Linked DNA regions of Homo sapiens: region 1 is linked to region 2. The links come from fine-mapping of genetic effects on gene expression. A gene starts in region 2. The other region holds a variant in brackets. All regions are shown on one strand. Distances are from middle to middle.

The links. PIP is the estimated chance that this variant, and not a neighbour inherited with it, causes the effect.
Region 1: its variant is the best candidate, but not a certain one, in a credible set for the expression of PKN3 in minor salivary gland (GTEx, PIP 0.55).

What each region holds. Positions count from the first base shown.
Region 1 is chr9:128,748,404-128,753,913 of GRCh38, forward strand. ZER1 (zyg-11 related cell cycle regulator) reads right to left here. Exons shown (of 16, transcript NM_006336.4): 3 at 5,406-5,510; 4 at 4,761-5,197; 5 at 4,270-4,446; 6 at 3,010-3,124; 7 at 2,719-2,865; 8 at 2,213-2,386. LOC124902340 (small nucleolar RNA U13) reads left to right here and starts at 955; the gene lies at 955-1,058. The variant A/G (reference allele first, on the strand shown) is at 2,688.
Region 2 is chr9:128,700,048-128,705,047 of GRCh38, forward strand. PKN3 (protein kinase N3) reads left to right here and starts at 2,456. Exons shown (of 22, transcript NM_013355.5): 1 at 2,456-2,892. The coding sequence starts at 2,869. RefSeq lists a silencer at 2,349-2,918 and an enhancer at 2,733-3,272.

The DNA.
Region 1 (5,510 bases), 49 kb after region 2:
AAAAAAAAAAAAAAAAATTAGTTGGGTGTGGTGGTACATGCCTTGTTGTCCCAGCTACTGGGGAGGCTGAGTTGGGAGGCTTGCTTGAGCCTGAGAGGTGGAGGCCACAGTGAGCTGTGATCATGCCGCTATACTCCAGCCTTGGCAACAAAGTGAGACCCTGTGTATTTGTTTTTGTTTTTCTTTGTGACAGAGTCTCCCTCTGTCACCCAGGCTGGAGTTCGGTGGCTTGATCTCAGCTCACTGCAACCTCTACCTCCTGGGTTCCAGCAATTCTCCTGCCTCAGCCTCCCAGGTAGCTGGGACTACAGGCGCCTGCCACCATGCCCAGCTAATTTGTGTATTTTTAGTAGAGACAGGGTTTCACCACGTTGGCCAGGCTGGTCTCGAACTCCTGACTTCAGGTGATCCGCCTGCCTCAGCCTCCCAAAGTGCTGGGATTACAGGTGTGAGCCACCGTGGCCAGCTAATTTTTGTATTTTTTAGTAGAGATGGGGTTTCGCCATGTTGGCCAGGCTGGTCTCAAACTCCTGACCTCATGATCTGCCTGCCTCAGCCTCCCAAAGTGCTGGGATTACAGGCGTGAGCCACCACGCCCAGCCTGAGACCCTGTCTTAATTAAAATATATATATATATATTGTGGCTGAGCACGGTGGCTCACGCCTGTAATCCCAGCACTTTGGGAGGCCGAGGCAGGTGGATCACCTGAGCTCAGGAGTTCGAGACCAGCCTGGCCAACATGGCGAAACCCTGTCTCTACTAAAAATACAAATATTAGCCTGGCATGGTGGCACGTGCCTGTAGTCCCAGCCACTAGGGGGGCTGAGGCAGGAGGATCACTTGAACTCAGGAGGCAGAGATTGCAGTGAGCCAAGATTGTGCACTGCACTCCAGCCTGGGCGACAGAGTAAGACTCCATCTCGAAAAAATAAATAAATAAAAATTATTGTTTGATCCTTTCGTAGTTTATAAGAGTGATGATTAGGTCTTCATGCTCATGTGTGAAATGTGCCTCCCTCAAACCATGTTAGGACGTTGGCATATTGCCCATCTGAAATGAAAAAAAGTTTTTGTTATATAAATATGTTGGCTGGGTGTGGTGGCACATGCTTGTAATCCCAGCACTTTGGGAGGCTGAGGCAGGTGGATCACCTGAGGTCAGGAGTTCAACACCAGACTGACCAACATGGCAAAACCCCGTCTCTACTAAAAATACATAAATTAGGCAGGTGTGGTGGCATGCACCTGTAGTCCCAGCTACTTGGGAGGCTGAGGCAGGAGAATCACTTGAACCCGCCACTGCTCTCCAGCTTGGGCAACAGAGCAAGACTCCATCTGAAAAAAAAATTTGTTGGCTGGCCAGGCGCAGTGGCTCACATCTGTAATCCCAGCACTTTGGGAGGCTGAGGCAGGTGGATCACCTGAGGTCAGGAGTTCGAGACCAGCCTGACCAATATGGTAAAATCCCATCTTTACTAAAAATACAAAATTAGCCGGGCATGGTGGCGCATGCCTGTAATCCCAGCTACTCGGGAGGCTGAGACAGGAGAATCACTTGAACCCGGGAGGTGGAAGTTGCAGTGACCCGAGATTGTGCCATTGCACTCCAGCCTGGGCAATAAGAGTGAAACTCCATCTCAAAAAAGAAAAAAATTGTTGGCGGATAAGGGAGATGTTCATATTCATGTGACAACACAGTTGAAGTAAAAATCCACCATATACAAACAGTATGCAGTTTGTGTATCCCATTTACAAAATATGTGTGCATAGGCTAAAATTCACAATTGATATCCCATGTTAATGGTGCCTGTCTCTGGGTAGTGGGTTTATGGGTGATTTTTATTTTCTGTATATCTGTAATTATAACTTTTCTATAATAAAGGCTTTTATTACTTTTATATTAAAAGCAGCTGTTGGTAAGAAATCCCCCAGCAGAGTGTATGGGCAGAAGGGCTGAGGAGACGGCACAGGCAGGGAGAAGGGCAGGGTCCCTGGGCCCCCACCCCCACATGGGGCAGGGAGGAGGATGGAGGGCAGCCAGGAGTGATGGACTGTGGGAAGGGCCAGGTCCCAAGAGTCAGGGAGTGCTGCTGTGGGAAAGGGAGCTGGGACAGATGCAGCCCAGAGCCGGGGGAGCCCTAGCGGGACGCAAGAAGCAGGAAAGGGGTGGCTGGGCCAGAGCATGCGGGGCCGTGGCGGGTGGGGGCTCACCGTCACCTCCTGGTAGGATTCCATGCCATTCAGCACCACCTGGATAACCTGCCGGCGCAGCTTCACACTCTGCTCTGAGCGGTACTCGGAATTTGTTAGGTAGAAGAGAGCGGCGCTGCCTGTCACTTGAATGTTCCTGTCATATTTGTGGCACTTGAGGGCCGTGATGACCAGCTGTATGAAGACAAGGGGGACCTGGGCTGGCAAGTGCAGGGAGAGGCCTGGGCTCTGCAAGGGGCTGGAACAGGCTCTCTGGGGCAAGGTTTAGCCTGGTCTTGCTCTCTAAAGGCAGAAGTGGGGCCTGGGGAGCAGACACCAGGGTGGGGACCAAACAAGGCCAGTGCTGAAGCAAGTCAAGTGCTGTGAGGCCCAGGCTGGGGTTCGGGTCCTGGGGCCCTGGGGACAGGGTGCAGAAGGACACAGGCTCTGGGGACACGGCTCAGCCAAGCCCGGCAACCTCCAGGTGGGGAGGGAC[A/G]GGAGGCCAAGGCCCCAGGCTTGGAGCTGACCTTCAGGGCCCGCAGCAGCTGGTTGCAACGCTCGATGCGGGCGATGTCAAAAAGCAAGTTGATGGCCCGCGAGGTGATCTCAGGCCGGTGCTCCGTGTAGGCCTCGATGGCATTCAGCACCTGCTCTTCGTTTTTGTCACCACTTACCTGCGGGTGGGACACGCTCAGAACAACCCAGCAGAGGCCAAGGGCTGGGATGCCAGATCCCAGCTCAGTCTCCAGCCCCAGAATCCAGCTCCTTCTCTCTCCCAAGGCTCCCTGGCCCAGACCCATCCCACTTCCACTGCTCACTTTGTAGGCTGGAATGTGCGTGAGGCGGCACAGAGAGTTCTCAAAGAGCCCGAGGAACTGCAGCGGCCTCTTCAGAGCCCGGAAAGGTATGATGCTGCTCTTGGAAGGCTCAATGCTGGGGAAAGAGGGTGCCGGTGTCAGTGGCTTGGGACCCAGGCCTGAGCTGGGCCTCCCCACTGGGGGTGGTGAGGCATTTCCTTGCTTTCTCTTCTAGGCCCTCCAACCTCATCCCCTACTCCTTTTGTTTTTAATGGTAGGGGACATAAGCACCACCTCCTGATGGAAGCATGGCAAAGCCACATAGTAGGGGAACACATAGGATGGGCAATGCAGCCACCTTTAGAAACCACCTGCCATTCTAGTAAGGACATGGCACCTTTAGGTCTCACCAACAATCACAAAGGGACAAGCTCAACTGAACACCATTAAAGCAGGCTGGGGCCAGGGCTTATGGGTGGCCAGTTACAGCTGGTAGGGTTTGGTCAAACTTCTCAACCAACCAATCCAAGAACCGACCTATGTCCAGCAATACTCCATAGGTGGCAGACACTGCCAGCCTTGCCTCTTCCCCCCATGGCACTGTGCTCTGGTCAGGCTGAGTGTTGGGTAGTTCCCCTGTCGCTCCTCATGCTCTCACCTACTGGCCTTTGCAGGTGCTGTTCCCTCTGCTAGAACACGCTTCCTCTGGCAGAGGCAGAATGAGCTTTCAGGACAGCCAGGATGCGTCCCTCCTCCTCCTTCCTTCCTGATCCTCAGGCCACACCGGGGCCCTGGATTGCCCCTACCATAGCCCTTGTAATGACTTGATTGTCCCCACCAGCTCACACAGCCTCCAAGAGGGCAGGACCTGATTTGTTTCTTTATCTCTAGCACCCAGCACAGCACTTGGCAGAGGGGTACTTGGCAAATACTTTCTTTTTTTTTTTTTTTGAGACAAAGTCCCACTTTGTTGCCTAGGCTGGAGTGCAGTGGCGCGATCTCAGCTCACTGCAGGCTCCGCCTCCCGGCTTCAATTCTCATACCTTAGCCTCCCAAGTAGCTGGGACTACAGGTGTCTGCCACCATGTCCAGCTAAATTTTGTATTTTTAGTAGAAATGGGGTTTCACCATGTTGGCCAGGCTGGTCTCTAACTCCTGGCCTCAAGTGATCCGCCCATCTTGGCTTCCCAAAGTGCTGGGATTACAGGCGTGAGCCACTGCGCCAGCCTAAATGCCTGTTGAATGACACCCTACCAGTAGCCATGGAGGCTGGGGCCCCACCTGGTCTGCCCCGCTTCCTCTTCCATCTTGGAGATGCTGCAGTTCTCTAGGATCATGTGGCCAGAGATGTCCAGGGACATTAGGTTCCCCAGCTTCTGCACAAAGAGGCTCAGCACCTCCCGAGTCAGCTTGAACTTGTAGTAGCTGGAGAGGCGGTCTCGGGAGATGTCCAGGTGTCTGAAGATTGGGGTAGGGGGTGCAGGTTAGGAGCTGGGTACAGGGTGGGGCTGCCTTGCAGATCCCAGCTCCTTTAGTCTGTAGCAGGGGAGGGCCCATTCCTGCCACAACTTCCCCAGGGCATTCTGGGAAGAAACCCCAAACAGCCCCAATCCAGCTGAAACACTGGGTTTAAGGAATGGGACTGTGTCTTCATCCCCACCCTCTGCCTAGCCAAGCGCTCCTGAACCCTGAGGGCGTGACAACACCCACCTCTACTCCTCCCCACCTGCCCCCCAAACCCCACCCTGGTGAGCTCTGGGCCAGGAGCTCACCGCAGCTTGTGCAGCTGCACGATGACCCGGATGTGGTCGTCGGACAGGTCCATGTTGTAGAGGACGAGGGACACCAGGCTGTCTTTCCACTGGGTGAGGAAGGCGGCGTCGCTCGTCTGAATGCCTGAGAGGTCCAAGGCAGCCAGGGAGTTAAGCGGCCGCAGCAGGGACTCCACAGGGACCCAATCAATCATGCGGCCCAAGTTGAGGAAGCGGAGGCGGCTGAAGCCCTCGAAGGTGAAATCCTTAACCAGCACCTGGCAGGTGGGGTTGACGAGGTACTCATCTTCACAGCCCCCTGGGTTCTCCTCCTCATAGAAAATGTTTGTACAGCCGAAGAGGCTCAAGGACACCAGGGTGTGGCTGAAGCTCCTCAGTGTCTGCAGGCTCTTGGCGGACAGCTTCTCGCAGTTAGTCAGGTACAGCTCCACCAGGTCCTGGGAGTGGGCACAGCTCCATCATCATCACCACCCTTGCCCCTTCCCCCGGCCCCAGGCCTTGCCCTGGGCTACAGGTGGGTTGGAAAGGGGGATGTGCACAGTCACGGTGCACACTGGCTGGGCTGGGGATGGCTGGGCTGGAGGCGAGCAGCCTGGCCCCTGCTTGGTGTGGGCCCTCCTGGCGCTGTGGCGGGGCAGGTCTCACCTGCTTGCGGATGGCCTCCAGGTCCTGGTCCTGCACCAGGTCCTCACGGAGGTGGATCCGCGTGAGGCGGGTGCTGCGGGGGTCCGAAAAGAGGCTGAAGAAGCT
Region 2 (5,000 bases):
TGGACCCGGGAGGTGGAGGTTGCAGTGAGCCAAAATTGAGCCACTGCACTCCAGCCTGGGTGACAGAGCAAGACTCTCTCAAAAAAACAAAAAACAAAGCCACTTTCCAACCAAACTTGGAAAACCATCGAATTCAGCTTCCTGCCTGCAGTGAGTGGATAAATGAGCCGGGAGTTGAGATGTGAGCACCCTCCTATGGAGAGTTATCTCAGATTACTCTTGGCTTCCAGAAGTAACATTTAGCCATCAAGGCAAATACACATTTTAAAGTGTTAATTAGCTGGCTGGACTGATTGCACCACTGGAGAATTCCTAAAAGGTGGGGAAGGCTTGTTAGTTTGATTCCTGGGTTTTTGATGAGCTGCAGTGAGAAGCTGAGGACTTTTTTACTTCTTTATTTTACTTTTTTAAGAGATGGTGTCTCACTATGTTGGCCAGGTTGGTCTTGAACTCTTAGGCCTCAAGCAATCCTCCTGCCTCATCAGCCTCCCAGAGTTCTAGGATTACAGGCATGAGCCACTGGGCTTGGTCAGCCTTTTTGCTTCTAAATGATGGATAATAACGTTCATTTAACCTCCATTTTATTTTATTTTTATTTATTTATTTTTCTTGAGACAGAATCTTGCTCTGTTGCCCAGGCTGGAGTGTAGTGGCGTGATCTTAGCTCGCTGCAACCTCTGCCTCCCAGATTCAGGTGATTTGCCTGCCTCAGCCTCCCGAGTAGCTGGGACTACAGGCGTGCGCTACCACGCCCAGCTAGTTTTTCTAATTTTTTATTTTATGTATTTTTTTGAGATGCAGTTTTGCTCTTGTCATCTAGGCTGGAGTGTAGTGGCGAGATTGGCTTACTGCAACCTCCACTTCCCAGGTTCAAGTGATTCTCCAGCCTCAGCCTCCCTAGTAGCTGGGATTACAGGCACCCACCACCATGCCCAGCTAATATTTTTTTTTTGTAGTTTTAGTAGAGACGGGGTTTCACCATGTTGGCCAGGCTGGTCTCGAACTCCTGACCTTGTGATCCGCCTGCCTCGGCCTCCCAAAGTGCTAGGATTACAGGCGTGAGCCACCGCGCCCAGCTGCCTTTTTAATTTTTTTTTAGCAGAGACGGGATTTCACCATGTTGGCCAGGCTGGTCTTGAACTCCTGACCTTAAGTGATCTGCCCTCCTCAGCCTCCCAAAGTGCTGGGATTACAGGCATGAGCCACCATGCCCAGCCAACCCCCATGTCAAAGAACCTACTATGTGCCAGGTGCTTCTGCTAATGTCTAGACCTCAACAACTCTAATGTGTAAATGTCACATTTCGCCTCTGATTATGAAATCTGGGCATGTTTCACAGAGCCAAGTTGCCTTTGCTTATATGTCAATGCCACTTGGGTGATTTCCCATAGCAGGACAACCCAGTGTTGTCCATGGCTCACCAATTTCACTTTTTTCCAGTCCATTATGAAGGAAGTGATTAGTGCAAAGCACAACATGTGGCTTCCTTCATTCAGTAAGAGCACCAGAGCCTGTCTGTTCCAAGTCACTGTCGGTATTTGACCCTTCATCACCTTCCCACCTCCTGGAGGACGCTCCTCCACGAAGTGCTGACACAACCTCCTGTAAACGCAGGATGCCAGGACGGGCTGAATGGCCCGCCATAGACTAGGCAGTGACCAGCACACCTCCCTTGGGCTGAAATAGTGGCGGCTATTTCACCAGGTGTAAATGGCTTTTCTCCCGTGTGGATGGATGGGCTTTTTAGGGTAAAGCCCTAAAAAGTGGCACGGGCTGAACCAGCAAGCTCAGTCTGAGTAAGAGATGGGCCGGAGAGAGGTCTGGTTCATTCATCTGTAATTTGTAATTTATCATAATTTTGGGTGAGGATTTACTTTTCCACAAGTATACGTTCTTTTTTTTTTTTTTTTTTTTTTTTTGAGATGGAGTCTCGCTCTGTCACCCAGGTTGGAGGGCAGTGGCAGGATCTCGGCTCACTGCAACCTCCGCCTACTGGGTACAAGTGATTCTCCCACCTCAGCCTCCTGAGTAGCTGGGATTACAGGCGCCCGCCACCACGACCGGCTAATTTTTGTATTTTTAGTAGAGACGGGGGTTTCACCATGTTGGCCAGGCTGGTCTCGAACTCCTGACCTCGTGATCCGTCCACCTCTGCCTCCCAAACTGCTGGGATTACAGGCGTGAGCCACCGCACCTGGCCTAGTATACATTCTTGTAGTGACTAATATCTAGTCTGGGCCAACCACTCCGAGGAGAGAGACAATTTTGGATTAGCCCACATTACACCAACAACGTGCGAGACAAAGAGAGACTTGAGGGGCTTGGTCGAGGAGGCCCAGCGCGTTAGAGGCGGGAGCCAGGTTGTAGAGGGGCTCAAAGTTAGAGGAGGCGGCCAGCTCCACCGGCTGCACCCGGCTGGGCGACCCGGCAACCTTCAGGGGGCGCTGTTTCCCCCATCCCTGTCCCTAACTGGCCGGCTCCCGCGGGCGCGCGGCGGGGAAGGCCAGAGGACCTGGGCGCGGGCGATGTGCCTCCTGAGCGTCCAAACCGGGGGTGAGGCGCGGTCACGCCCAGCGGGAACCGCAGGCGCCGAAGCCCGGGTACTGGGCCCAGAATCCCGCGGAATTTTGGATCCGAGGGAGGCGCTGGGGCGCGGGACCTCGGGCGTGGGGTCCCGGGCGCTGGATCGGCGCGGACGGGAGGCGGCGCTGGTCCCGCGGGCCAGCGGGTCTCGGGAGGGGGCGCCCGATCCCGCGTCTCCGGCGCCGCTTCCCGGGAAGTTTCAAGTTTGAAAGTCCTGGCGGAGGGTCTGCGGCTTCCGGGACCGGAGTGGCTGAGAGAAGGGCCCCAAGCGGCCGGAGCGGCGCCATGGAGGAGGGGGCGCCGCGGCAGGTGAACGGCGTGGGAGGGGCGCGCGGGCCCGGGGGGTGCGAGAAAGCCTCTGTCATCGCCCCGGAGCCCCGAACCGCGGCCGCTTCCCCCGATCCTCCCCTCACCCGCGCCCCTTCCCTGCCCCTGCCCTGGCCCCGGCCCCGCGACGCCCTCGCAGAGCAGACCTGATCTCCGGGTTCGGTGGTTCCTGGACCTTGCACAGTCTCCAAATCAGTCCGCGGCTGACCCGGAGACTGAACCCCAACCAGCCCGTGAGCGAGGACGGCTGAGTCCGCAGTGTGCGCCACCAGGGTGGTCCCCAGAGTGTCCTTAAGTCGGTTCTCCTCGGTGGGGCTCCAAGGCCGACGGGAATTAGCCGGGATAGAAAGGCGGGGCACAGGGGCCTGGGGGGGTTAGAATGTGCGCGCAGCGGGGGGCGCAGTCTGTGCGCGCTTGGCAGTGGCAGGAGTCCTTCCCGGAGCACAGGAGGCACGAGGGGAGCGTAGATGAGAGGGGAGCGGCCTCCCCCGCCCCAGGGCGGGAACCTTTGGGTACATAGCGGGTTCTAGAATGCGGAGGGGGCTGGGTTTCCTGCCAGAGCTGGCAGTAGGTGCGCGTGGGCCCGGAGGACCGAGGCCATGTCTATCTGCTCCTGAGGAGGGAGAGGTGGTGTCCTGTTCCGGAGCGAGTGGTTGGGAGGGGGGCATTTGCGGACAGGAGTGGGTCCCCGCAAAGAGCGGAAAGGAGGTGGTGTGTGTGTCCATGTTGGAGTTCCAACCCAGGGCAGACGGGACCATGGGGGTGTTGCGGGGTGCGTGTAGACTCCTTGAGCGCCCAAGCCAGTCGTTTAGGCCGCCTTCAGGGCTGGGGCTCGGTCTGCCCCCTCCCACCCCCTTCCTCTGGAGGTCCCTCCGCCTGTTCCAGACGTAGCTTGTACACATTTTCCGATTTCCTGCGGGGCTCCGCCCTGCAGCGGCAGCTGGGTGACTCAGGACCCCGGTGGCCGGGCCCCCAGCTCCATGGGACCTTTGTTTGCTCCGGTCTTTGGCTCTGGCCCTGTGGCCTAGGGCGGTCAGAGGATTTCCTGAGCCTCGCCCTTGCCCTCTGACAGCTGGGCCAGCAGGCCCCGCTGAGGTCTGGGGTGGGGGGGTCCCTGAGTCTGGGGTTGCGGCCCCTTCCACTGGGCTCAGGAGAAGATGGAACACAGAGAGGTAAGATGGGGTTCCTGCAACAGCCCGTGTTGCGGGGCATCATGGGTTACCCGGCCTGAGGTCACCTTTGGCACCGGTTGGTTTGAAATGCTGGCGGCTGGAAAGGAGGTGTTCCTGTTCCTGGCTCCAACCTGGGTGAAGCCGTGAGAGAGCCTTCTACTTCCTCCCGGGAGCTGAGCAGGGAGTGGGCACCCGGAGACCTCCCCAGTTCCTCTCTGTGCCTCTGCTTTGCTACCTGTGGCATTGGGACATCAGGGGAACAAGCCCTGGCTCCCAGGCCCCTGGCTGCCTTCTCATGTGGCTTCGTGTGAACCCCTATTCGGCGTAGCTTTTGTGGCTCCTGGACTCTACTTTGGGTCCCAGATGTAGAGAGAGCAGCCTGATTACCCAGGGCTGCCAGGGACAGCTGGGGCCCGAGAGATGGTGGCCCCTCCTCTGTGTCTTGACTGTGGGCAAGTTACTTCACCTCTCTGGGCCTCAGTTTCCTCACTAGAAAATAGGGGTAATAGTACAGGCGTGGTGGCTCACACCTGTAATCCCAGCACTTTGGGAGGCCAAGGCAGGTGGATCACCTGAGGTCAGGATTCAAGACCAGCCTGACGAACATGGAGAAACCCCGTCCCTACTAAAAATACAAAATTAGCCGGGCTTAGTGGCGTGTGCCTGTAATCCCAGCTACTCAGGAGGCTGGGGCAGGAGAATCGCTTGAACCCGGGAGGCAGAGGTTGTGGTGAACCGAGATCGTGCCATGGCACTCCAGCCTGGGCAACAAGAGCAAAACTGTCTCAAAAAAAAAAAAAAGAAAAAGAAAAAGAAAAAAGAAAATGGGGGTAATGACCACCGCTACCGGGTGGGGTGGCTGGGAGGAGTGATGTGGTAATATATGCAAAGCACTTAGAATAGAACCTGGCACCCATT